2 separate regions of the Homo sapiens genome follow, and region 2 is linked to region 1. The links come from fine-mapping of genetic effects on gene expression. Tissue or cell type: esophagus muscle. Region 1 holds a variant in brackets; the other region holds the start of a gene. All regions are shown on one strand. Distances are from middle to middle.

Evidence for each region. PIP is the estimated chance that this variant, and not a neighbour inherited with it, causes the effect.
Region 2: MEGF10 starts here. The variant in region 1 is fine-mapped to the expression of MEGF10 in esophagus muscle (GTEx, PIP 0.91).

The regions. Positions count from the first base shown.
Region 1 is chr5:126,638,667-126,641,354 of GRCh38, forward strand. No RefSeq gene overlaps it. Among named protein-coding and RNA genes, the nearest start is that of SPMIP10, 8.3 kb to the left of the region's middle. The variant A/G (reference allele first, on the strand shown) is at 1,508.
Region 2 is chr5:127,289,506-127,292,193 of GRCh38, forward strand. MEGF10 (multiple EGF like domains 10) reads left to right here and starts at 1,291. Exons shown (of 25, transcript NM_001256545.2): 1 at 1,291-1,551. It overlaps LOC105379199, which reads right to left and starts at 1,231. Exons shown (of 4, transcript XR_007058921.1): 1 at 1,073-1,231.

The DNA of each region.
Region 1 (2,688 bases):
TCACCGCAAGCTTCGCCTGCCGGGTTCACGCCATTCTCCTGCCTCAGCCTCCTGCGTAGCTGGGACTACAGGCGCCTGCCACCACGCCCGGCTAATTTTTTTTGTATTTTTAGTAGAGAAGGGATTTCATCGTGTTAGCCAGGATGGTCTCTATCTCCTGACCTCGTGATCCACCCGCCTCGGCCTCCCAAAGTGCTGGGATAACAGGCGTGAGCCACCGCGCCCGGCCAGCACAGCTATTTTTAACGTGACAAATGCTTAGTATGCCGTCTTCATATCGCGTGGCACATATAAATTCTGTTTAACTTATGCCAGGTGCTTCGTAGCATATCAAAGATAACTGAGATGGCAGCCTTGGATAAGAAGCGGTTCAAACTTGAGGTTCTTGGCATATCCTCACCAAAAAAGCTATTTAGTAATATAGCTGGGACTACAGGCGCACACCGCCATGCCCAGCTAATTTTTTTGTATTTTTAGTAGAGACTGAATTTCACCATGTTGACCAGACTGGTCTTGAACTCTTGAGCTGAGGCAATCCACCCACCTCGGCCTCCCAAAGTGCTGGGATTACAGGCATGAGCCACTGTGCCCAGCCAGTAATACATTTTTTTTAAATGTTAGGTTATTTGTTTTACTTATTTGTTTATGTATTTATTTATTTTGAGACGGAGTCTTGCTCTGTCACCTAGGCTGGAGTGCGGTGGCGTGATCTCGGCTCACAGCAACCTCCGCCTCCCAGGTTCAAGCAATACTCCTGCCTCAGCCTCCTGAGCTGGGTCTACAGGCGCCTGCCACCATGCCCGGCTAACTTTTGTATTTTTAGTAGAGACGGGGTTTCACCACGTTGGCCAGGCTGGTCTTGAACTCCTGACCTCAGCTGATCCGCCTGCCTCGGCCTCCCAAAGTGTTGGGATTACAGGCGTGAGCCACCATGCCCGGCCTTTTTGTTTTATTTTCCTAGATACAAATTATTGCTATGTTGCACTGGCTGGAGTGCAGTGGCTATTCACAGGTGCAAACATAGCATACTGCGGCTTTTCTAAAAAACAATATTGCCGGGCACGGTGGCTCAGGCCTGTAATCCCAGCACTTTGGGAGGCTGAGCTGGGCGGATCACGAGGTCAGGAGATCGAGACCATCCTGGCTAACACGGTGAAACCCCGTCTCTACTAAAAATACAAAAAATTAGCCGGGCATGGCAGCATGCGCCTGTAGTCCCAGCTACTCGGGAGGCTGAGACAGGAGAATGGCGTGAACCCAGGAGGCAGAGGTTGCAGTGAGCCGAGATCGGGCCATTGCACTCCAGCCTGAGTGACAGAGCAAGACCTCATCTCAGAACAAACAAACAAAAACAATATTTTAAGATTTAAGTATATACATTTTTTAGACAGAATGCTATTGAGCACTTAGTATACTACAGTATAGCATAAATGTAATTTTTTTTTTTTTTTGAGATGGAGTCTTGCTCTCTCACCCAGGCTGGAGTGCAGTGTCGCGATCTTGGCTC[A/G]CTGCAACCTCCGCCTTCCAGGTTCAAGCGATTCTCCTGCCTCAGCCTCCTGAGTAGTTGGGATTACAGGTGTGTGCCACCAAGCCTGGCTAATTTTTGTATTTTTAGTAGAGATGAGGTTTCACCATGTTGGTCAGGCTGGTCTCGAACCCCTGACCTCGTGATCCACCCACCTCGGCCTCCCAAAGTGCTGGGATTACAGGCGTGAGCCATCGCACCCAGCCGTAAATGTAACTTTTATATGCATTCGGAAACCAAAAAAAAATTGTGTGATTCACTTTATTGCAATACTTGCTTTATTGCAATTTTTCCAGTGAAGGAAATTAAAAGTACTACTCCAGGGAATACATGAATGATAAATGACACAGCCATATTGCTGATAGGGGGAAAGTTTTAGTGGTCTACACAGAAGATCAAGCCAGCCACAAAATTCCCTTAAGCCAAAGCTTAATTCAGAGCACTTCCAGTGGTCTGGAACTGAACGTGCAGTATCTCCCTCCCTGCATTCCTGGGTTAAATCACATTTAGTCAGGATGTATAAGGTGCAAGTATAAGTCACATCCTGACTAAATGTGATTTGACCTAGGAATGCAGGGTTAGATTAATATCCAAGAATCAATTAATGTAACACTCTATATCAAAAGAATAAAACACAAAAGCCACATGATGATCTCAGTAGACACTAAAAAAGCGTGTAACAAAATCTAACACTCCTTCGTGATAAAAACTAGGAATCAAAGGAAACTTCCTCAACCTGATAAAGCTCATCCATGAAAAACCCACAGCAAAAAATTGAAAAACAAACAAAACAAAACAAAAACCCCACAGCTAATATTATAACTAATGGTGAAGAAAGATTGGATCACTTCCTCCTAAGATCAGGAAGAAGATAGAGATGGCTGCTCTCACCAATTCTATGTATTATAGACTCAGCTTCCTAAGCCTCATGAGGCAACCTCTGCTAGCTTCAGACTATTCTTCTGCAGCTTCCTCACCTCTCAGCTTCCCTGGATTAGGCTTTGTCTTAAGGGAATTTTGTGGCTGGTTTGACCTTCTATATGGATCACTAAAACTTTCCCCATGTCAGCAATATGACTGTTTCACTTATTAATATCATTCATGTATTCCCTGGAGTAGCACTTTTAATTTCCTTCAAGAACTTTTCCTTTGCATTCAAAACC
Region 2 (2,688 bases), 650 kb after region 1:
CTGTCCTTGTGGCAGGGATGGTATCTCAAAGAAAAATGGAGGTACTGTTACCAGAGAAGGGGCAATGATGACTGCTAAACAAACAAATAAACAAACACCAAAACAGTCTTCCCCTGTGTATTTCCAGGGAGAGTAAAGAGGATGGTGAGGGGCTTCAAACATATCTATGTTCATTCATTCCATTCATTTATTCACTCAAACATAATATGGAGTCTGTACTATTTTCCAGGAGCGTTATTGAGTAGGGACTCGAACGCTCTTGAAGTCTCTCTAAAAAGAAAGAGTTCTTATTAATGGGAGGAAGAGAAGCCTGGTAGGAGATGGTTACCTGGAGTGGTTATGGGGCTTAAACCTGTTTTTGTTTTTTTGTGGGGAGAGGGGGATAGAATTCAACGACACAAGAAAGAACTTTGCAGCAGTCAAATTTGTATCTTTTGGGGTCCTGTAAAAGCTGGAAAACTCTTTAGTCTGGAAGAGGAAGATGGACAGTCAGAGAAGCAGATTCCAGAATTCATGTCCTGTCTAACCCACAAATGGAAAAGCCCGTTCATGGTTTTAACATTCCATCACTGGGCCTCCCGGGGCCTCCTCGGCGAGTCGGCAGAGGGAGCCATTCCCCAATAAATTGCCGCGCGAGGCCTCCGAGGACCTGGGGGGATTTTCCTGCGCGTCCGGGGAGTTCTCTCTCCGCCCCTCCATGGTAAAGCAGACTATCCCACCCTCCACCCTCTGCCTTCACCTCCCCGCCCCACCTTTCCATGTACTTTGCTGCCACATCACATTCTCTGGCACGGCTTAATCACCATCCTTTCTGGGTCCCACCTTTGCGCTTTCTCCCCTGACACCACTGAGGACCCGCCGTCCACTCCAGTTGGCCGCTCGGGCGCCGGCCACCGTCCCACAAATCCTTACAGAGGGTCTAGAACACCTCCCAGGGACTCTGCCGAGGGACTTGCACCCAACGTGGGTTGGGAATCAGGCGGGCACCCACTCTGACACCCCTTCGGTCACCCCCTGCGGTGACCCCAACATTTGCTAACTTCGCGACCAGGCCTTTGGCGGGGTCACCCACCAGGCGGTGGAAGCCGCTCAGGCAGGGGCGACTCACGATCGAGGTGCAGCAGTCAGGCCGGGAAGATCCTGCATGTTGCGCTAGGGACTGCGCGCGGCGCCAAGCGACAACCCCCCAGCGGCCACTGCCCCGGCAGCAGCAGCTGCAGCAGCGGCAACTGCTCGAATCCCGGCCCCGGCTCGGGTTACCCGCCCCCACCCCCTCCAGCATCTCGGGCCAGACAGAGAAAACCTTGTTCAAGTTTGCAGCAAGTACTTTCCCGGTGCGCAAAACTGGGCGACTGGGAACGCGTTGAGACGTTCCTCTTTCCCGCTTCTCCACCTTTACGCCTGAAAGAAGACTCCCAAAGATTGCTTTCTTCTGGGACGCTGCTTGGACGCTAACCGCGTTGATTGGAACAGATTTTGTGTCTTGGCTGGCTTTGGGTGAAGACCGGGGAGAAAAGGTTGCGCTGCGATTCTCAAGATCTCTGGACCTGGGTAAGAGTTGGGCAAACTCAACTCCGGCGGCTCCTGGACCTTGGCCGGACGCCGGAAGGCTTCTCATGGGCGGGGGTCACATTTTCCTTAGCCAGGGTACCGGGGTGCGGCGTGAGGTGGGGCGAGATGGGCTCAGTCTGCGTTGTTCATGCGCTTCTTAAGGGTTTATTGTTGTTTGCATTTGGTTTTGTTACATGGGATTGTGTAGGAAAATCCTGGAGTATTTTTGATGGAGAGACATCCTCATTACGCATTTTATTTTGCATAATTCCTGCCCTTGTATTGCCTTACCTTGTGTTTGTTTCATTTTGCCGGGCGATATAGCTGGATGTAGGGAGATTTGTGGGGAATCGGACTGAGCTTGAAAGGCAGTTTCAGCTGGGCCCTTTCTTCTAGGTCAGTTGAACTTCCTTTCTGGGATCTTCACTGTTTTCTAAACTTCTCTTTCTCCCGTCCTTGGTATTCAGATTGTGCAGATAACGCTCTAGGCTGGCGGGATGCTCCCCTTTCCTGAGTTCTCAGCGATCAGTAGGGGTGTGAGGTCGCAGTCTTAGACCAAAGGGGCCTTGTCAGTATGCTTGGCTCCTTAAGGAGTGCTGGGAGGGACGGTTTTTCAAGTGATAGTTACTTAAGAAAGATAAATCCGGTGTTGATCTTTTTCTTTTAAATTCCTTGTTAGAGGACTTTTACGCCTGGTTTAAGGAAGTGTTTTGGCCTTAATTTTCTTTCTGGAAGTATTTTTCTTAGTGACACCACTGAGCAAATGAATGATGGCAATATCTTTGCTGCTTCTTTAGAAAATATCCTCACGCAAGGACCCACATTATTTAGGAGAAAGTCAAAGTTGGAGATCTTATTAGCCAAAATTAGCCATTATTATTGTTCTTAGGCTGTGATAACCATGCTGTGCCAAGGCAGAAGAGAATGACATTTCTTCTTGTTCTTCTTGCCTTACTCCTTTATATCCTGGGTCTCACTTTGTGTATAGGGTTCCCAAATAAAAATGCTTCATTCCTTATGGACAGAAATACTGGGGCCAATTTATATTATCCAGAAATGTCATCTTCCTGACACGAGTGCTCCAAGAGGTCAGCTTGCAGGGAACTTTTAATTTTACCACTGAGAGTTCAAAGAGTT